Regions from separate parts of the Homo sapiens genome. Here all the other regions are reported to be linked to region 2. The links are microRNA targets in miRTarBase. Many come from high-throughput screens and were not tested one by one. Region 2 holds a microRNA gene; each other region holds the end of a gene's coding sequence.

The links. The annotated mature microRNA hsa-miR-4481 reads GGAGUGGGCUGGUGGUU and lies in region 2 at 1,735-1,751, opposite strand. An mRNA with a match to its seed (bases 2 to 7 or 8) in the 3' UTR can be bound and repressed. Matches are read on the target gene's strand: a 7mer-m8 pairs with bases 2 to 8, a 7mer-A1 pairs with bases 2 to 7 and ends in A, and an 8mer does both.
Region 1: miRTarBase lists RALBP1 as a target of hsa-miR-4481. Seed matches in the 3' UTR shown: 7mer-m8 at 1,497-1,503.
Region 3: the mRNA of MALL is a reported target of hsa-miR-4481. Seed matches in the 3' UTR shown: 7mer-A1 at 1,423-1,429.
Region 4: miRTarBase lists LRIT3 as a target of hsa-miR-4481. Seed matches in the 3' UTR shown: 8mer at 1,763-1,770.
Region 5: the mRNA of CCT7 is a reported target of hsa-miR-4481. Seed matches in the 3' UTR shown: 7mer-m8 at 3,492-3,498.

The regions. Positions count from the first base shown.
Region 1 is chr18:9,534,990-9,539,462 of GRCh38, forward strand. It overlaps RALBP1 (ralA binding protein 1), which reads left to right. Exons shown (of 10, transcript NM_006788.4): 10 at 682-3,125. The coding sequence ends at 948. Among named protein-coding and RNA genes, the nearest start is that of RALBP1, 62 kb to the left of the region's middle.
Region 2 is chr10:12,651,447-12,655,905 of GRCh38, forward strand. It overlaps MIR4481 (microRNA 4481), which reads right to left and starts at 1,751; the gene lies at 1,692-1,751. All of the region lies in intron 2 of CAMK1D (calcium/calmodulin dependent protein kinase ID), which reads left to right.
Region 3 is chr2:110,082,164-110,086,636 of GRCh38, reverse strand. It overlaps MALL (mal, T cell differentiation protein like), which reads left to right. Exons shown (of 4, transcript NM_005434.5): 4 at 880-2,767. The coding sequence ends at 942. It overlaps MIR4436B1 (microRNA 4436b-1), which reads left to right and starts at 114; the gene lies at 114-204.
Region 4 is chr4:109,870,195-109,874,194 of GRCh38, forward strand. It overlaps LRIT3 (leucine rich repeat, Ig-like and transmembrane domains 3), which reads left to right. Exons shown (of 4, transcript NM_198506.5): 4 at 1-2,121. The coding sequence ends at 595. Among named protein-coding and RNA genes, the nearest start is that of LRIT3, 24 kb to the left of the region's middle.
Region 5 is chr2:73,251,983-73,256,455 of GRCh38, reverse strand. CCT7 (chaperonin containing TCP1 subunit 7) reads right to left here. Exons shown (of 12, transcript NM_006429.4): 12 at 3,451-3,816. The coding sequence ends at 3,595. FBXO41 (F-box protein 41) reads left to right here. Exons shown (of 13, transcript NM_001371389.2): 13 at 1-1,766. Among named protein-coding and RNA genes, the nearest start is that of CCT7, 20 kb to the right of the region's middle.

The DNA.
Region 1 (4,473 bases), not on the chromosome of region 2:
AAGGGCAGGGTGCATGCGTGGCACTCGGTGCTTGCGCTTACACCTATGCCCCCTTCGCAGAGCCTAGTCCATGCCACACCCACGCAGGGGAGGCTGGCACCTGCCACAGAGTGGAGGCCACGGCAGCAGGGCCGCTGCTATTCCTCAGGACCTAAACTTTGCCGAGTACATCCAGATGATTTAGAATTGATAGTAATTTTCTGTAGTTTGATTGAGTAGGACATTTCAGAATTACCGTAATACTATTCACAAAAGACAAAGGATATTCACCTTTGAAACAAATCTAGTTTTTTATCTGATCTCTAACTCCCCTTTCTAATTGCTGCTAAAATTACTTTTATTTTCTCCTTGTTTAAGGGCTGTTGAGAAGCCAGTTCAAAGTTATAAGTTGTCTATTTTAAACACTAGGATACTGAATTATTAAAATAACGGTTTCTGTTGGCACATGGATGTGTTTCTCTCTAGTAACCAGGAGCAGGGTTTCCAGCCTCACATTCTCAGGAGTCACGTGGCTCACTGTGCACTGTGCATTCCTGCTGTGTTTGTCTTCTGTTTCACAACCCATTGACTTAAACAAAACCAGATTCCTCTGTAGGATGCCCTTGCTAACCGCGCTCTGCTCCTGAGAAATCGTCCTCTGACTTCCTTAAGTGATAACTGCCCTTTCTGTCATTCCCCAAGATAAAGAACAATCATTTGAATCAAGCAATTCATGAGGAGCGCGAGGCCATCATCGAGCTGCGCGTGCAGCTGCGGCTGCTCCAGATGCAGCGAGCCAAGGCCGAGCAGCAGGCGCAGGAGGACGAGGAGCCTGAGTGGCGCGGGGGTGCCGTCCAGCCGCCCAGAGACGGCGTCCTTGAGCCAAAAGCAGCTAAAGAGCAGCCAAAGGCAGGCAAGGAGCCGGCAAAGCCATCGCCCAGCAGGGATAGGAAGGAGACGTCCATCTGAGCAGCCTGCGTGGCCGTCTGGAGTCCGTGAGACTGAAAGGACCCGTGCATCTTACTGTAACCCGGGGGCCAGGCCGGCTCTCTCGCTGTACATTCTGTAAAGGTGTCTTCTCTTCTCAGACTCTTCCTCTGTCACACGTCTGACTCCTTCACGTCAGGCTCAGGTTCCATGGGAGGACGAAGCAGTGGACGCATTGTGGGCTTTAGGGACAGATGAGTTTTCCAGATAGTGTCAGCTTATTTGAAGATTAATTTTCTTTGTTAACTTAAAATAACTATTTTAACCCTTGAGTGGCTTCTTTTTAAACCAAAAACCGTCTTTCTTTGCTTTTTTATCACAGCAGAATCAGGATCTCTTTCTCATTCAAGGGGGGAACCACCCCAGGTCAGCGCTGCGCCTGCTGTGGCCGCCGCGAGCCACGCCCTCTGGGATCTCTGGTACCGTCACTCTTGCTTGTGCCTTCCACACCTTCTCGGTGCAGATCCCTATGGGGGAGCTGCCTCACGTTCTCTGACTGGTCAGAGCAGCGCCTGGTGGGTGTTCCCTGGCCCACTCTCCTCTCTCCTTCTGCAGTTCTAAACCACAGTCTATAAGCCCGAGTCACCAGGACGGCCTGTCTGGCCACAGACAGGGGCTGCCTGTGGAGCCTGCCCACCGGCCCCCGGCAGTGCAGTCCAGCGGGGAGGAGGCTGCCCGTTCCTGCCAGTTCCTCACTGCGGGGACCAGCAAAGGCCTTCTCACTGGGTTGGTCAAAGGTAGTCACCTTGGCCTGGTGCATCCACAGAGGATGTTGTTCAAACCAGAAATCTTTTAAACGACTGACCTTCCTTAAAAACAGAATGACTCCGATTGCTTGCTTGGGCTAGAATGTACACGTCTCCTTGCCTGAATAAGCCATATATATGCTCTTAAACAAAAGTTTGAAATTATCCATATCATCTCAGTGAACCTACTGGTGGACTCCCAATTGACAAGATTGAGCAATAGAAAAAAATTCCTTTCCTTTGAATGATAGCTGTGATTCACCCCACCCCATTTTCTTGTTTCTGGTCCATCCGATGAGACGGATGCTCTGATGCTCTGAGGCTTCTGGGAGGCTGGGCCCTGGAGGCAACGTGCTGCAGGCGCACTCTGTCAGAGTGAACAGCACCGCGAGACAGGCCAGGCTCGTGGCTCGGAAGACAAACCCCACACACACTCAAGGGGTCGAAAACAAACCCCACACGAGGGCTCTCACCTCCTTCTCCTAGGTAGTATTTATTTTCAGCACCTGTTTGATGCAGTTTTTAATCCTCTACCTATTGCACTGTTGTGACTCGTTGGCCATTATTTGATTTTTGTACGAAAAAAAGCTTTGTTATAGAAATCAGCATACTATTTTTTTAAATCTGGAGAGAAGATATTCTGGTGACTGAAAGTATGGTCGGGTGTCAGATATAAATGTGCAAATGCCTTCTTGCTGTCCTGTCGGTCTCAGTACGTTCACTTTATAGCTGCTGGCAATATCGAAGGTTCCTTTTTTGTTTGTGTAAACTCTAATTTCTATCAAGGTGTCATGGATTTTTAAAATTAGTATTTCATTACAAATGTCTCAGCATTGGTTAACTAATTTTTGCCAGGACCATTATTGATCAAGCAAATAAATTCAACAGCCATTTGGGAAAAAGAAAAGCTTCTAGTTTTTTTGTACACATTCTTTCTGTGAGGAGATTGAGTACTCTGCAGCTGGCGAGGAGTTGGTTGAGGCACTTCTTCAAGGCCAAGGGGGAACACAGTGTTTTGTTTCCAGCTCACTTTGTACCCCTCACCTCTGCAGACACGGGGAGAACCCCGGACCCCTGGCATGCATGCTGGCGGCGGCATGCCTCCCTTCCACAAGCCCATGCTGCTGCAGAGGGAGCCTGTGTTTGCAAAACCCAGTGGACTGGGCTGGGTCTGCTGTCTGAGCAGCTCCTGGCTCCGGTGGGAACTGCACACAAGTCCACTGGCCTGGCTTGGCCCCAGGCATTGCAATTGACAGACATTTGCATTTCATACGGTAAATGAGGACTCAGCACAGCCAACCATAATCAGCATGTCTGGGATAGACTGGTCTAGAATAAAAATGAAGTTTCCATTGCTTTGTTTGCTTTAAAAATTCCACAATTAAAATATCTGTCATTGAAAGCTTAGACAAACAGCTGACTTCTCTGTTTTGTGTAGTTAAATCTATAATGTTAAATTTATATAGCTAAATTCTCCTTGATGGAAAGTCTCAAACGCCCTGATGGGGTACATTTAGCATTGGGGATCTGGAGATACTGAGGTGTGAGACCTGAGGTCACCTCCCAAGATGGGCTCTAGTGCTGTGTGATCTTTTTTTTTTTTCACTGCAGCTGTTTCTGTGAAGAGCACATTGCTTGTTATGTATTAGGATATCTTAAGAACAAACACACCTTCTGCGTCCAGCCAGGCTGAGCAAGATGCAGCCTGGGCTTTCTGGAGCTCTCGATGGGGACCCGTGCCCAATTCCATGTGTTCAGCCTCAGCCCTGGCCCATGGTTCTCATGAGGGATAGAAGGAAAAGCCGGAGTCAATTAGCAGGCAGAGGCTTCAGCATAAGATCCCACAGCTTTTAGGGAAGGTGGGCAGTGCCCCCTGGAATGTTCTAGACTAGATCCCAGGAGACCCAGGAGACGTGATAGCAAGCCTGGGCAGAGGAGGGGGCAGAAAGCCCTTAAATGCCACATGTAGGGGCTCTTTTGCAGAGCAGGAAGAGTACTGCTGCCCGTCACATGCCGGGTCCTCCGAACCTGCAAAGTGATGGATGCTCATTCTCTGCATTCTGGTGACTTTGCTGTTACTAGACAAGCATGATTCAACAGGTGTTCAGTTCAGCCCCAGCAGATCTCGGACATCCGACCTCTGCTCCCACCGCCTAGCTCAAGTGTCAAGTGCTGTGACCGGACATCGTGCTGAGCTGTTCCCGGGTCTCGTGCTAGAAACTGGCTTCTAGACAAACAGTGCGGGTACTGGAAGGAACGTGGACTTTAGGCAGGAAAGGCTTTTTTTATTTGTTTGTTTTTGGAGACAGAGTCTCACTCTGTTGCCCAGGTTGGAGTGCAGTGGTGTGATCTCAGCTCACTGCAACCTCTGCCTCCCAGTTCAAGCAATTCTCCTGCCTCAGCCTCCCAAGTAGCTGGGACTACAGGTGCACACCACTACCATGCCTGGCTAATTTTTTGTATTTTAGTAGAGACGGGGTTTTACCGTATTGCTCAGGCTGGTCTTGAACTCCTGAGCTCAGGCAATCCACCCACCTCGGCCTCCCAAAGTGCTGGGATTATAGGCTTGAGCCACCGCACCCAGTGTAGGCAGGAAAGTCTGGGTTTTCTTCATAACCTTCAAAAGCAGTCTTGTTGAACTTCAGTTTTTTCATTGGCAAAATGGTGGAGATAATCTTGATTTCCAAAGGCTGCTTAGATAAATAATGGCTAGTAAGTACCTGGCATAGGGCTTTTGGCGTCATACTCCAATTCATTTTCC
Region 2 (4,459 bases):
AGTGGTGCAGTCATGGTTCATTGCGGCCTCAACTTCCCAGTCTCAGGAGATCCTCCCACCTTAGCCTCCTGGGTAGCTGGGACCACAGGCACGTGCCACCACACCCAGCTAATTTTTGTATTTTTTTTTTCTTTTTGGAGAGACGGGATTTCACCGTGTTGTCCAGGCTGGTCTCAAACTCCTGGGTTCAAGTGATCCTCCCGCCTTGGCCTCGCAAAGTACTGGGATTACAGGCGTGAGCCATACTGCCTGGACAACTTCTTTTTTGTTTTTAAAGAAACTGTAAAGAGGCCAAAGATTTAGGACAAAGGAGCTCATTACCATCTTTGGAAATAACTTTTTTTTTTTTTGAGACGGAGTCCCGTTCTGTCGCCCAGGCTGGAGTGCAGTGGCGCGATCTCGGCTCACTGCAAGCCACCTGCCCTGGGTTCACGCCATTCTCCTGCCTCAGCCTCCCAAGTAGCTGGGACTACAGGTGCCCGCCACCACGCCCCGCTAATTTTTTTGTATTTTCAGTAGAGATGGGGTTTCACTGTGTTAGCCAGGATGGCCTCTATCTCCTGACCTCGTGATCTGCCCGCCTCGGCCTCCCAAAGTGCTGGGATTACAGGCGTGACCACCGCGCCCGGCCGGAAATAACTTTTTGAGGGAAGATCTTCTCTTTGTATTTGAAAATGTGTCAGTAATAGTCTTTACTAGTTGGAGTGGGGAAGAAAGCTTTTAATTTCACTTTTGAATTGTTGATTACACTGGTTCCCTCCACTCCCTTGCCCCCATCTTTATTCTGTTTTTTGTTTGTTTATTTTTCTTCACTTTTTAGTAGGAGAGTCTTCTTTAAAAACAAATTCCCTAGGGCTGGGTGCTGTGGCTCACGCCTGTAATCCCAGCACTTTGGGAGGCAGAGATGGGCGGATCACAAGGTCAGGAGATCAAGACCATCCTGGCTAACACGGTGAAACCCCGTCACTACTAAAAATACAAAAAAAAAAAAAAAAGCCGGGCGTGGTGGCGGGCGCCTGTAGTCCCAGCTACTTGGGAGGCTGAGGCAGGGGAATGGTGTGACCCCACGAGGCGGAGCTTGCAGTGAGCAGAGAGTGCACCACTGCACTCCAGCCTGGGCGACAGAGCGAGACTCCATCTCGAAAAAAAAAAGAAAGAAAGAAAACTAGGTGAATAGTAACGAGTTTATTAGCCACAACCTATTTGTAATGTCATTCCTGAGAATTTGCAAATAGCCCTGGAGGTTACACTAGGAAGTTTCTTGAGTTGACATCCTTGATCATAGTCTTTTATTAGCAGGATATAATAGAACTATAAGCTCAGACCACCTTAGCATTTAACAATGATCTATCATAAAACTGCAATTTGGAGAGGTGGATGTGTATTACACACCCCTCGTTTAAAAAACATCAACAAAGCAAAACATGCTGCTCTTTTTAATTGTGACTCATCTCAGTTATGAAGAAATTAATTCTTAAGAAAGAATACGGTGTCTTAGTTCGTTTTCTATAACTTATAACAAAATAGCTGAAACTGGGTAGTTTATAAAGAACCTTTTCTTTATTTCTTACAGTTGTGGAGGCTGGGAAGTCCAAGGTGGAGGGGCTGCATCTAGTGAGAACCTTCTTGCTGTGGGGAACTCTTTCTGCAGAGTCCTGAGGCATTGTGGGGCATCACATGGCTGGGGGGCTGAGCGTGCTCATGTGCTAGCTTAGGTCTCCCTTCCTCTTAAAAAACCACCAGCCCACTCCTGTGATGACCCATTAATCCACAAATGGGTTAATCTATTCATAAGGGCAGAACCCTTGTGATTCAGTCACCTCTAAAAGGCCCCACCTCACAATACTGCCACATTAGGGATTGCATTTCAGTGTGAGTTTTGGAGGAAACAAATATTCATACCATAGCACAGAGTTGTCCTTATTATGCACACTGATAGAGATGATCAGAAAATAAGAAATTATGTTTAAAAACACACATACAATGAACCACAAACACCCTAATTCATTCCCAACATATGAGTGCTTGAAAGATGTTTTCTTCCATTGGAATGTGCCTGGTTATCTGAAGCCTGAGTGTGACCTGAGCCAACCATGTGACAACGTTAATTACTGATGTGCAAAAATTAAAGAACACTCAATTCTGCACCATCATCTCTGAATGTGGGCACTTTCCCAGAATGATGAGGAACATTATACAGTATGAGTTCAATCCCCCTAAGTCTGACAGTGAACTGAAATTAGATGGTTGTTCAAAACAGACTTCCCTCTCTGTTTTTCATCTTACTATTTTCATCTCATCTTTTTCTTTTACAATTGGCTTCCCACTTTCTAAATAAATGTTGCCATACCCCAGTAGCTTTAGTGCAATGCCTAGGATCATTTTGGCCTGTGTTCCTGATGCTTCATTATCTCGTTTGAATGAAAGAGCAGCACTGGGTCCTCCAATTTCAGTAGGTGCTATTCAGGGCACCTGTTGGCTTGACATGGTCATGGGTTTGAGTTGTGAAATATGGACCCTTCCATGTGGGTATCAGCACAGAGAAAGCACAGGACATTAGTGGTAGGAAAGAAAAAAGAAACAATACCTTTCCCCTAGATTCCAGTGCATTATTTTGTTTCCCTTCCACTTACTTATCCTCATATAAATGCAAGTGTTCAGAGCTAGAAACCTCAAAGATGCTTCCTGAATTCAAGCCCAGCGTCTTCAATCTGGGGCACAGAGTATGTGAAGGAAGCTGCAGGATACACCCCAGCAGTTCTGTGTCATTAACAGTATTTCATACAGGAATAGCTTCTAAATTCACCTTGTAAGCATCCACAGTGAATCTGAAACAAGCTTTCTGAGATTTCCCTTTCTAAGGTGATTTGGTGTATGTGGGTTCTCACATCAGTGAAGCTAGGAAATCCAAGCTACAAGAGTTAATCTCTGTTTCAAGGCGGGTAAACACCTTAATGTTTTCTGAGACTCCTGGTGCTAATTTTCATGTTTAAAATGCCCACAGAAATATATATTACCCTTTGACAAAAAGTTACCAAAAGATTCAAAGAAGGAAATGACAGTATTCCTTTAAATGTGTTAGTGTTTCAAAGTCTTGCTAAGAAATAGTAGAAGAAGTATTACTAATACTACTTGCTAAGAAATATTAGTTGCTAATACTATTATACTTGCTAAGAAATGTTATTTTTTTCATATTCTTATCCTGAGAGGAGTAATGGGTTGGCCATGTAGCCTTAAATCTTTATCCTTAGGACACCCTGGATCTTAACCTTTAAAAATCAGACTTATTATCAAATAAATGTATTCAGCCTAGATAAATTTAAAATGGGCACGGAAGCCACGAAGTTATCAGCTCTGAAGTATCTAAAGTTGAACCCTTTCCCATGACCTAAGATTCTCAGTAATTTAGTAATAAATGACTTACCAGTGGTTCTCAAACTTGGCTGCACGTTTGAATCACTGGAGAAACTATAAAGAACTTGTTACGCCTAGGCCACGCCGCAGGCCAATCAAATCATAATCTCCAAAAATGTTCCAGTTATTAGTACATTTGGAACTCCTCAGATAATTCTAGCACGTATCTGAGCTTGAGACCCATTGGATTAGGCCGTTCCTGCATTGCTATACAGAAATACCTGAGCCTGGGTAATTTATAGGAAAAGAGGTTTAATTGGCTCACAGTTCTGCAGGCTGTACAGGAAGCATAGTGCTGGCATCTGCTCGGCTTTTAGGGAGACCTCAGGAAACTTACACTCATGATGGAAGGCAAAGGGGGAGCAGGCATGTCACATGGTGAAAGCAGGATCGAGAGAGAGTGGGAGGGGGAGGTGCCACACAAGAAGCCACTGTCGCAAAGACAGCACCAAGCCATGAGGGATCCACCCCCATGACTTGAACACTGCCCTCTAGACCCCATGTTCAAGCATTGAGGATTGAAATTCAAGATGAGATTTGGGCAAGAAAAACTATCCAAACTGTATCACCCATTCACTGGTAACTTCTCATGGATGGTAACAGAAATAGGAAAGAAATACACAGTCAAATCTTAGAACCTTTTTTCATTCTGGTGTGTAGCTTTGGAATGTCTGGAGTCTGTAAGACTTTTGGAAGGTGAGAATTAATTGTTCATTCATTCATTCATTCTTCCATAAACATTCCTTGAGTGTTGATATGTGCTGGATTTTTCACACTGGATTTTTCACACTGAACTGGACCTAACTTATTTCTCCTTTGGTCGAAAGACCGCCAGGCCTCAGCTGGACCTCTAGAGCCATTCTAGACAAGAGCAAATCACTTGGGCGTTTCTGTATTAGTCCAGGCATTGTGGATGCTGATGTGGGAGAAGGAAAAGTGGGTCTTTTCTGTGTAAACAACTTCATGTCTCAAGAAAATTCTGTTCTGTGTCCAGCTGACAAACTTGTCTGTGCAGATAAAGAACCTATTGATGCACAAGTTGTCA
Region 3 (4,473 bases), not on the chromosome of region 2:
TTGGCAGGGCCTGAAAGGTATTGAAGGTGACGGCCCTACCCTGAGAAAAGAGCAGAGCCATCATACAGCTTCAACGTGGGGCAACGGGATTGTGTTCTCCCCATGAGTGAGAAGTGTCCTCACTTGTCCACTTCTGCCTGCCCTGCCCAAATGGTGGAGCAGATTCGAGGGGCAGGGCAGGAAGAAGTGGACAAGTGAGGCCATGAGGAGTCCTGCCGAGGGATGCCGGTGGCTGAGACAAGGGAAAAATGAATGTCCCAAGAGCTAGGCAGGGAAATCAGTAGCCTTTGGGGTGGCTTTGCATATGGCTGGCAAGGGAGGCAGGAGGAGCCAGGGGCCACAGGGGTCAGGCTCAGGGAGTGGGGCGAGAGGAGGACCCTGGGGCCCACTGGGCTTGTCAGGCTTGTGAGGAAACGTCAGGGGCTCAGTGTGAGCCAGGAAGAGCTGGAGGATGTCTGAACATTCACGAGGAGCTGATAAGCAGCCGCTCAGGGCAGAGTTCTGGGCCAGCGAGGGGAGCTGTAGGAGTGTTCAGAACACAGATTTGCTGGAGGTGGGCAGAGGAGAGCGGGCCTCGGGCAGGAGGTCAGCGTGGGATATGGGCCCAGAGCTGTGGTGGAGGTGAGCCTGCTTCACAGCCAGGTGCAGATGAGGTGGAGACTGCAGTCGGGGCAGGACACCAGGACGGCCCCAGGGAGGCCCTGATGGAGAGTTTCCAGAAGAGGGAGTTGTTGGCCAGGGGTTGCTGCCCTCAGGCCACGCAGGAGGCGAGGAGGCAGGGTCATGCGTGGCCTCCTGGGCAGTGGGGCTGAGGGTACCTGAGGGGTGGGCAGGAGCTGGCGCTGCTGTCTCTAACAGTCACTCTCCACCTCCTTCCAGTTCTTCGCCTTCATCGCCACGCTGCTCTACATTCTCCATGCCTTCAGCATCTATTACCACTGATGCACAGGCGCCAGGCCAAGGGGGAAATGCTCTTTGAAAGCTCCAATTATTGGTCCCCAAAAGCAGCTTCCAACGTTTGCCATCTGGATGACAAACGGAAGATCCACTAAAACGTCCACGGGATTAACAGAACGTCCTTGCAGACTGAGCGATGACACCACACTTTGTTTGGACATTTAAATTCACTCTGCTGAATAGGAGGAAGCTTTTCTTTTTCCTGGGAAAACAACTGTCTCTTGGAATTATCTGACCATGAACTTGCTCTTCTAGACAACTCACATCAAAGCCCTCACTCCACTAATGGAGAATCCTAGCCCCACTAATGCCAAGTCTGTTTGGGGATTTTGCCTCAGCTATGGGCTTCCCTAGAGTAGGTCTAGGGGAATACTCAGTCTGATCTTTTTTTTGTTTGTTTTATTTTGTTTTTTTTGAGACGGAGTCTCGCTCTTCCTCCAAGGCTGGAGTGCAGTGACGCGATCTCCACTCACTGCAGGCTCCGCCTCCCGGGTTCCCGCCATTCTCCTGCCTCAGCCTCCCGAGTAGCCGGGACTACAGGCGCCCACCACCGTGCCCGGCTAATTTAGTTGTATTTTTAGTAGAGATGGGGTTTCACCGTATTAGCCAGGATGGTCTCGATCTCCTGACCTCGTGATCCGCCCGCCTCGGCCTCCCAAAGTGCTGGGATTACAGGCGTGAGCCACCGCGCCCGGCCTGATTCTCTTAAAATTGAAGAGGTGCTGCCAAGGCCTTCAGATCTAACGCAGATGCATAGACCTTGTTCCTGGTACTTGTTCAGCCTGTGCTGGGGAGCCGTGGTCCCGAGTTCCCTGGGAGGCTGACAGGGTCAAGCCACCCTGCCCACCACCCTCCCACTTCCCCTCCCCTTTCCTCTCCAGCATTAGGATTCAAGGGAAATTTGCATGAAGCCAATTTTGAGGGTAGACGTGTGGGGAAAATAAATCATTATACAGTAAGACCTGGGGCTTGAGGGGTGGGGAATGGGGAGGGAAGGGCATAGCCTGCTCCTCCATGAGTCTGACATCTCGGAAACTGAGCAGCTGCCGGACGCCTGGGTCAGGAATCCAAGACCCCACCTCTTAAGGACTGGTTCCTCAGAAAGCACCCTCAGGGAAAAAGGTGAAAACATTACATCCGTGGATTCTCCTGCCACAACCGCATTGGAAGAAAAGGCTGCCGCAACATCTCAGCGAGGAGTGAAGGACCCATGTCCCAGGAACCGCGCTGCGCCACCTGCACTCACCCCCCTCACATTCTCTTAAGCACCCGGTGGCCCTCCGAGGCCTGGCGGAATGGTGGTGCCCACGGGGTTGGGCAAGGGCTCACCAGGACCTCAACGGGCAAAGTTGTGCACACTAAAATATCAAATCAAGGTGCTTGGTTTTAAAGTAAATGTTTTTCTAAAGAAAGCTGTGCTCTTCTGTTGACCCAGACGAATAGGGCACAGCCCTGTAACTGCACGTGCCTTCTGTCATTGGGAATGAAATAAATTATTACGAGAAAGGGACTTGTCCTAACTGGTTTGAGGCCTTACAGTTTTGTATCTACATTTTTCCCCTCCTGGGGTTTGCGGGGACAGGGACAGAACTACAGGAGTCATGGGAAAGAAAATTCTGGCTTCACTACTGCTCACTGCTCACTTTCTGATCACTCTGATACTTTTTTTTTTTTTTTTTTTTTTGCAACCTGATACCTTGAAAAGCTTCTATGTGTCTCTCCTTTTGTTGCCTGGCAGCTGTCTAGGATGATCACTGATTACTATTTACTAAGTAGCCACATGCAAATAAAAGTTGTTTGGTAAAAAGGAGCAGTTGGTCGACTTCATCTTGTTAGCATCTGGAACTGGCCATCAGGTACTAGGTGTTGTCAGTAATTTCAAGAAAAGCACCCCTTGGAGCATTTCACAACCTAAGTTCTCTGAGGGTGGGATCCCAGCCCACCCGGCCTTGCTTCTAGAGCAAGAGCGAAGGGAGGTCACATTTGTCTCCAGGGCTTCGGGTTTATAATGTCATTTGTACTTCAGTAAGGACAGTTTGGGTGCAAGTTCCGGAAACCAAACTCATACAGCTTAGGCAAAAATGGGAGTGCACCAGTAGGGGCTGGGAGAGGTGAAGAGGGCTCAGTAGGAGGAGAGCTGACCCCCGCATGGCTCTCTGCTGCACACTGGCCATCGTCTCTTGCCACACTGCAAGACTTGTCCAAGTCTCAACAAACACCGGCCTCCCATCCCACGTGCAGACACTAGAGGCTCAGCCTGGACCCCCAAAGTCCATCCACCCACAGCTGTTGCAGTGCTGCTTTCTGCCTTGAGGGGCAGCCCTCCTCTCAGCGTAGGGGTCTCCCCAGGCTCTTGTCTTCTGGAGGGAACACCCCGAGGCTCTTGGCAGGCTTCTCAGAGGCCCCAGCAGGAGTGGGCTATCAGGGAACCTGCCCCGATAGTCATGTAGGTTCTTTTCTATTTTTCCTAAGTGTCGGCTGGCTTGAGAAATAAAGGGACAGAGTACAAAAGAAAAATTTTAAAGCTGGGCATCCAGGGGAGACACCACATGTCAGTAGGTTCCGTGATGCCCCACAAGCCGTAAAACCAGCAAGTTTTTATTAGGGAGTTTCAAAAGGGGAGGGAGTGTGCGAATAGGTGTGGGTCACAGAGATCACGTGCTTCACAAGGTAAATAGAATATCAGAAGGCAAATGGAGGCAGGGCGAGATCACAGGACCACAGGATGGAGGCAAAATTAAAATTGCTAATGAGGTTTCGGGCACCATTGTCATTGATAACATCTTATCAGGAGACAGGGTTTTGAGAGCAACCGGTCTGACCAAAATTTATTAGGCAGGAATTTCCTCTTCCTAATAAGCCTGGGAGCGCTGTGGGAGACTGGAGTCTATTTCACCCCTACAGCCTCGACCATAGAAGACAGCCACGCCCAGGGGGGCCTTCTATAGACCTACCCCCCAGGTGCGTATTCTCTTTCCCAGGGATGTTCCTTACTGAGAAAAAGAATTCAGCGATATTTCTCCCATTTGCTTTTGAAAGAAAAGAAATATGGCTCTGTTCTGCCTGGCTCACCAGTGGTCAGAGTTTAAGGTTATCTCTCTTGTTCCCTAAACATTGCTGTTATCCTGTTCTTTTTTCAAGGTGCCCAGATTTCATATTGTTCAAACACACATGCTCTACAATTTGTGCAGTTAACGAAATTATGACACGGTCCTGAGGCGACATACGTCCTCCTCGGTTTATGAGATGACAGGATTAAGAGATTAAAGTAAAGACAGGCATAGGAAATCACAAGGGTGTTGATTGGGGAAGTGGTAAGTGTCCATGAAATCTTCACAATTTATGTTTAGAGATTGCAGTAAAGACAGGCATAAGAAATTATAAAAGTATTAATTTGGGGAACTAATAAATGTCCATGAAATCTTCACAATCCACGTTCTGCCATGGCTTCAGCTGGTCCCTCCATTTGGGGTCCCTGACTTCCCATAACAGTGGGCTCTGGCGTGAGCTTCACAG
Region 4 (4,000 bases), not on the chromosome of region 2:
GACAAATGCCGCAATAGAAAACCTCAGGGTGGTCAGTGAGACTAAAGAGAGTGTGACATTGACGTGGAATATGATCAACACCACACATAACTCTGCAGTGACTGTGTTGTATTCCAAGTATGGTGGGAAGGACCTGCTGCTGTTGAATGCAGACTCCAGCAAGAACCAAGTAACCATAGATGGCTTGGAACCCGGTGGGCAATACATGGCCTGTGTCTGTCCAAAAGGAGTGCCTCCCCAGAAAGACCAATGCATCACCTTTTCTACTGAAAGAGTTGAAGGAGATGATTCTCAATGGTCTCTCCTTCTCGTGGTGACCAGTACTGCCTGTGTTGTTATCTTACCATTGATTTGTTTCTTGTTGTACAAAGTTTGCAAACTGCAATGTAAATCAGAACCTTTTTGGGAAGATGATTTGGCAAAGGAGACTTATATCCAATTTGAGACCCTGTTTCCCAGGTCTCAAAGTGTAGGTGAGCTCTGGACACGAAGCCACAGGGATGACTCAGAGAAATTGCTGCTTTGTTCTAGGTCAAGTGTGGAATCTCAGGTGACTTTTAAAAGTGAAGGTTCCAGACCAGAGTATTATTGCTAAGGTTCTGCAGCTCAGGTGCATGTGAGCTACAAAACTAGCATCTAAGGGTATAATTGACCCTAGGTTTGGATGACTTTTGGACAGACTTTCACATTGTACATGAAAATCACAAATGGAATGCTTTTAAGTATGTTTAAAAAATACCATGAGACCTCTGAACTGAAAAGACAAATAATGTTGATTTTTTTTCTTGTGTGGAAAAGGTCTACAGAAATAATTTTTAGAGTGGTGCTTAATAAATTATTAATACTTTTTAGGGTAATGTTTTAGTTCTTAAAAATAAGTTCATGTGAAAGTAGCAAGTGAACTCTGTATTTAAAAATATAGTTTTTTGAGTCATGAGGAAACATTAGCAAAACCAGCTAAGCCTTGATGTTTATTCATGTTCGAAGTGCATTATAGCATTTGCTGTGGATGTTTTCTGACATTGCCTAATGGAGAGCGTGGGATCATAAAGGATTTTGTGTTCACTAAGGTTAAATCTAACTCACGGGAGAGAGAGGGCTCTGTCTCTTGGTACCATTATGCATTGTGATACTATAGAGTTGTGTTCATATTTCTTGTAAGAAAAATTTTTGCTTTTCTTTAGAAATATAGGTATTAGCAAAAGTAAGTATACAAAGAGGATTATGACAAATAGACCATTTCTTTAAAAATGGTAACTGTTGCATTTAAACACATCGACTGACAGATTATATGGATATTTAAAAATAACTTTAAATCAATCTTTTAATATTTTGCTGTTTGCTCTTATGTTCTCCCTTCTTTCTTCCTTCCTTGTCTTCCCTCCCTTTCCTTCCTTCATTCTTTCTTTCTTCTGCTCTGTCAGAAGATATACAAGTAGCCAAAGCATCACGAGCCAAGCTGTTTGTCTTTTGCCATATTGTCTTTTGATTCTCTTGATAAAGAGAAAGCTTTTGAAATTACTTACTGCCCTTTGAAAGTCTGTTTTACAACCCCAAAGGATATTTTAGGACTTTAAAAGGGAAGCTTCAGTGGATTCATTTGGTTAGATTCTTTTCCTAGGTTAAAAACATCGGGGAACTTAAATACATAGGAAAGGAGTTCACAAATAAAATTTAGTTTTTTTAGAAAGAGAATATTTTAATAACTGTAGTATACTACAAGAAACATCTCATGGCTTTAAGATTAACGATAGCGATAAGGCCCACTCAAGCATCTCACAGTGGTGATATTACATGTCACTTAGCAGGATGCAACCTGGCCTAGGGATTTCCAGAAGACAAGGCCACCTCAGCACAGATGCAACTTTCATAAATTTTAGAACAAAGCCTAACCTTACTAGATTAAACTTGCTCTATGAAAGAAACACTTGGTAATTGACCCAGACTGAATACATGTATAAGAAATGGGAAAGATCTCCCAAACTCTGAGAACGGTCCTCAAATAGAAGCTCTCCTAGTCAGTTGGTCATCTGACCTCTGACTATATCCGGCCTATGACACCAGCCAGCTCCTGCTTTCTGTCTTGTAAGAGCACTGCTGGAATAAACTACTTGAGCATTAGATGGTGTCTAAGACTCATCTTTGATGACAGGGATAAATCACCCTTGTGAAGCTGGCTAGCTGGGACCACCCAAAACCTCAGAACACAACTAGCAGTGAGGATGAAATTTGAGTAAGCCAATGAGTGATGACACCCATTTCTACAGGAGGATCAAGGGAGAGTGGCCAGGGCCTGGCTCTGATCGAGAGATTGGGTGAGGTCTGAGGAACACTCTACAGTGGGTCTGGCAGTTTTTGTTCTGTTTTCACATGTGTTGCTGCCTTCTATCTTTACTTTGTGCCTCTGTTTTGGAGGTCACCACCAGGTAAAATTTGCCAAAATTACTTTTAAGACCACTCTGGTCCCACAGGAAGGTGGGCTTCTAGGAGGAGGGTGGTAGGAATGCTGTAGGCTGGGGGACACCCTGGGCTTGAAGAGCCAACCACCAGCTGGTATGTTTCTAGCCTCAGCTGTGGGAGAGGAGCTCCTCGTCCCCAAAGGTCCTGGCATCATGACCCCATAGACCAAGAAGGCTCAAGTACATCTTCTCCACAGAAAGCTTATCTGTTGTCTGCCAACTGGGGAAAGAGACTTCTCCAACATACCCCGGTCTAATGCCGTTAGCAAAGTCACCAAATCACCAACGGGCATGTTGCTGCCATCCCTGTTCCTCTGCATGCTCCCAGTGAGACAGTGCGGCTTCTCCAGGGCTTTACCACCCCCTACAATGCCTGCTGGGTGCTGCCAGCAGCAGCCCATGAGCAGCACATCCAAATCATAGGGGCTCACCTCAGAGTTGCCACTCTGCACCTGGCTGACCTGGAGGCCTGTGAGCTGTGATCATCCTGAGTGCACCAGATTACCCCCAGCAGCACCACAGGCATTGCCAGTCACCACCTGGACACAGTTAAGAAAGCAGCTGCCACCTCCGCAAACAGCGAGGGTGAGGAAGAACTAATCTCGGATCCCAAAGCAAGCACTCTGTCTAGCAGGACTCGGTTAGTAACTGTCAGAGCTGGTTGTTACAAAGTGAGGTTCTTCCTTGCCTTGGCTCCCTTTGGCACACTCACTTCCTTTTCCACTTCTCTGCCATGCTGTGACATGGCAGAGGCCTCACTGGAAGCTGACCAGATATAGTGGGCAGATCTTTGACTCCTAGGCCTCCAGAATTGTAAGCCAAAGTAAACCTCTCTTCTTTATAAATTACTCAGTGTCCTGTTCTGGTGACTCTCCCTTATGCCTGTCTATTCTGTTATGACCACAGAAAACAGACTAAGAAAATTCTTATGGATAGAAGATGCATTCTTACCTTAAATCTTTAGAAACCTATGAGGGTTTCTTACGCTTCATAGAAGCATATGAGGGTTTTTTGTTTTTCTGTTTTTTACCTTATTAAGTCAGGAACTTGCACCTTTTCACGTAAAGGAAGCACTTTACAGCTTCTCTTTGGCATATCCAAGTTGCCTGCGTCACTATTCTTGTGCTTTGGGACCACTGTCAAGTAAAATAAGGGTTACTGGAATGCAAGCACCGTGATACCACGACAGTCCATCTGATAACCACGGCGGCTTCTAAGTGACTGATGGGCAGGGAGTGCATGGTGTGGATCCTCCAGACAAAGTGATGACTTATGTCCTGGGTGGGACGGAGCAGGATGGCAAAATATTTCATCAGACAACTCACAGCCACACCTCCTGGAAACACTCAAGAGCCCTACTTGCATTTGGCAGCCATCTGAAACGGACAAAACCTGAAACTCTAGCTTGACTGGACCACCTCCAAGATCAACTTAAAATTTATGAATTGTTTATTTGTAGATTTTCCATTAAAAATTTTCGGACTGTGGTTGAAGTTGGGTATCTGAAAACGTGGAAAACAAAACCTCAAATAAGGGGGTAC
Region 5 (4,473 bases), not on the chromosome of region 2:
CCAAGCACTGGCAGCTTTGCAGCCCCTGCCCCACCAGCCCCTTGACGCTCTTCTTTTGTTCTCTCCTCGGGGATGAGCTCTGCTGCTGAGTAGGGAGCTTTTGCTTGCTGGGAGGCTCTATGCATGGATTTTTTTGGTGACCATACAGCTAGGGCTGAGGATGGGAACAGGGACAGAGGGCCTGGCTATCCCTAGAAGCACTTCATCCATCTTTACCCACCCAAACGGGATCCCTTCACATCTCATACCCAGTAAGATGCAAGAAAGGAATATCTGAGAGCAAGCAGCCCTGCTCCAGGGGCCCCAGGTATGTGTAGAGGCCCAGTGGGGGTGGCCACTTGGTGTTTCTACCACCCCCTGCCATCCAGTCTGGCCCCAGTACCTACCTGGGAGGTTGGTGTACTTGGCTTAAGTACTTCATGCTTTATTCAGGCTGCTTCCCCACAGCACCGGCAGGAAATGAAGGTGCACTTATATGCATCCCTGCAGGAATAAAGAGTGGGTGGCCTGCCCAGCCCAGCACCACAGCCTTTCCCCAGCCAGGAGAGACCACCTAAGGATCAAGGCAGCTCCTGTTTTCTTGGTTCTGTGACACTCGAGTCTGAGCCAGCCCCTCAGGAATTGCCTCAAAAGAGAAAAACAAAAAAAAGTCCTCCTTCCCAAGGCCTGCTACTCCAAGGTTTGGCTCCATCCCTTGCCTTTGGGTCCTGCCTATTTCCCCACTCCTGGTCTCTTATCTTTGGGGCCACCAGTGGGGAGTCACCCGGGCCCCAATCCCTCTAAGGCGCTAAGTTGAAGGAGGCCTTCCCAGAGTGACTATTGGTGCCAAAGTCCCAGTTCCTGTTGGACTTGGGGTAAAAACAGGAGATGGTGAGTGGGTGTAAGGCCCAAATGCCCAGAGAAGTTAACTCGAACCCATGGGACCTGTCCCAGCCTGTCAGTCCCTGATGAGTGTAACTTCCTTCCCCTGGGGGCCTGGCCCTTCTCTCCAACCCAGTGGCCATGCTTTCTCACCCAGCCTTGTGCCCGGCCTGCATTTCTGTATATATTGCTGTGTATTGTGTGTATGTATGTATTCCTGGACAAGTGTGTTCATCTGCAGCCCTTGCCTGAGGATAAGGTTTAGGATTGGGTAAAGATCAGAATACCAGGGCCAGCTAAGGCAACGACTCCCTCCCCAAACCCTTGGGACCTCAGCCAGTCCCAAGGCTGCCCTGACAATCAGGCAGGCTCCCCACCGTGAGGCCAAGCCTCCTCTGCCACTGCCAGCATGGCCCAAGGGAGGCTTGGCCTTGGGCTTGCCAGCCTCAGCTCTGCCCTGACAAGGGTCTTGTATCCAGGGCAGAGGCCTGAGGTGACCCAGGCTTGCTTTGTGGCTGATGCCAGCAGGCTTGGTTCTAGTGGGCACCACTGGTGGGCAACCTCCATAACTGGCCCTTAGGCCCTACCTTCCTACACAGCTAGGCTATAATGGGCCTGAGTGAGAGGGTAGCTTCCCCAGCCCCAAGCACAGGCAGAGGGGTGGAGAGCAATTTTTGGTTTTATTTTTGTTTCTGAAGTGGTGCCTGTACCTCCAGCCCCCAGGGGGCCTTCCCTGGCCACACTTCTCTGCCCCACCCAGGCATCGCCATCCCAGCACTTTGCTCCATGTCACCCGTAAGATGCCCTTTGCTGAATGTACCTGAGTGTATGTATTTAAAAGGACTCACATGGGCATCAGAGAATTTATGGCTCTGTATCCAATAAAAAAGATGGTGAAACTGGTCTATCTGCCCCAGAGAGGTAAATGGTATGTGGCCACACTTATCATCTGTGTTATCATGGTCTTTCTGCAGCTCAAGTGCAGAGAGGCAGGTAACCCAGGGGAATGAAGTATAACAAGACTTGCCAGCGGGCACAGTTGCTCATATCTGTAATCCTAGCACTTTGGGAGGCTGGGGCGGGAGAATCACTTGAGCCCAGGAATTCGAGACTAGTCTGGGCAACATAGTGAAACCCTGTCTCTGCAAGAAAAACTGAAAAATTAGCTCGGCATGTGCCTGTATTGCCAGCTCCTTGGGAGGCTGAGGTGGGAGGATATCGAGCCAGGGAAGTGGAGGTTACAGTGAGCTGAGATCACACCACTGCACACTCCAGCTTAGTTAACTGAGTGAGGCCCTGTCTCAGAAACAACAAAAACTTGCCTCAGGACTGCAGAAAAGCCACCTAGGGTGACTGTCCTGCCACCGCTCAACCCTGCTTTCAGTGTGTGTATCCAGAGGAAACGCCTTGAGATACATCATTTCTGACTCTCAGCTAGGAGAGACTACCTTCAAGGACAAAACCAGTACAACAGGGCAGCAGGCACTGCCCAGCCCCTCCCTGGCTTGACTGCCTACTCAGGAGGCTCTGGCCAGCCAATCAGGCTTTGACTGCGGGAGACCAGGTTGACATCATGGCCTGGCCTTGACTTCCTCATTTTACAAAATGTCCTTCTGCCCCTGACTTGATTCCTCAGGTCCTGAAATATTTAAAATCAGAAAAAAGAATAAGTGTTTTTAGGCTTAAACTGTGTCTCTAACATAAAAATAAACATTTAAGTCTCACTACTCTTTGAGCCAGCTACTCTTACCCTGTCATACAGGTAGAATAGCAGAGGCTCAGAAAAATTAGTCTACCTAAAGACCATCAAGTTAGGAGGAATGCCAGACTCCAAAGCCTGGACCTGCCTGCCATCCTCTGTGCTTTAGAGTCCATCTAACCAGGAGTGGCTGGGTTCAGAGAATTTTTTTTAAAAATCACTTCCCAGTTTTAGCTAGCAAGTCTCAATGGCTGACAATGACATCATCATTTACCTCCAGCTTTTAACAACGACCAACTACAGCAGGGTGCAGGCCAGCTATCAGGACCAGTGTAAATCAGGAGGATGTTAGACACTGCTGGATTTCCAGCTCATCTGTGCCAGCCATTCCAAACTCCCATTGGTCACAAGAAAGCAGAAGGACCAAGATCACTGGGGGCTGAACTGAAAAGACTAGGTGGGTGCTTTCAGTCGTCTCCTTAGTAGACTTCCAAGGGATCACTAGAGTTTAGAGAGCATAAGCCCTCCCTAAAACACCCTTCTCACAGTCTTGAGTAAGAGGGAACAAAAGACTAAACCAAAAGAATATGGAGATAGAAGGGGCAGACAAGGTAATGTAACCCATTTACTCAAACCAGAGAAACCCTGAGAGCAGTGTCTGGCTAGGCCAGGGCTAAATAAGATGATGCCAGAAGAAAGCAACTGCGTGTTGTCCAGCCACTTCTGGAACAAAGAATGCAACCACAGTGAAACTTCCAGACGGGCCACTCTAGTGGAGCTCACCCCAGGATGCTCTTGTCTCCCTGTTGGACAAGTGCATGTAAAGCTAAAATTCTGAGCTACAGCCAGACATTTATGAGTACCATGCCAAAATAATTTACAAAGTTATCTGAAGTCTTACATTTTATTTAAATAGCCTCCAGTAAGAAGAGAGTGGGCCAATTACTACCCCTTCCTTGTAAAATGAAGTAACCAAGCCAAGGAGGGTAAGTGCACCCAGCAGCCAGCCAGCCATGTGATGGGTGGGGTGCCTCTCAGTGGGGGCGGCCACGACCACGGCCCCGGCCTGCTGCTGTGGGAGCATCCACAGTCGAGCGGGGGTTCTTGATGGTTTCATCTACAGACACGATCAGGCACGCAGCCTCAGAGGCTGCTGTCAGCGCATTGATCCGCACCATAGCTGGCTCCCACACGAAAGCTTCAAAGTTGTCAGCAATGTCCTCGTTGTTGATGTCTACTCCATACCATGTACCCCCCTAAAAGAGTAGGAAAAGAAAGGAGGTAATATGGAACTACTTTCAACTTTCCTCTTGTAAACTGGTACTCCAAAAGACACTGCTAGGAACCCGCAGACTCTCTGAACTTGGTGGCATTTCGCTGAAGAATACTGCATCTTCCTATGAGCATGCCAGGAACCTGGAAACACCCCTACTCCCGCCAACTCCTCCCCTTAGCCCTGGACATACCACACAAGACCTCTGGGATCTTCTCCCAGGCAAGCTGTTGTGTTTTGGGGCGGCCCCATCCTCAGGTCACCTGAGGACTATATATATATATATATATATATATATCAAACAATGAGTTCTCAAGATAAACAGGAATAACAAAAATACTATCCCATCTTTCATCTCATTGCTTCAAATAGCCCGATTTTACAGATGAGGCAAGTGAGACACAGAGGTAAAGTGACTTTAAGCAAAAGTCCTAATACAAGCCAGAAGCAGGGTCATTCACTGGGTGCTAAGCACTTAACAAACCTCTATCTATTTAACAAATGGAGAAATTAAACTCTCAGAGAGGTTGAAGTAACTAGCCCAGGGTCACACTTGTAGGGCTCTGGAGAGCTTCACCACACCAGTAAGCCCACTCCATGTGGTCAGTATGTGCTTCCAGGAAGGTGGATGCAAGGTTCC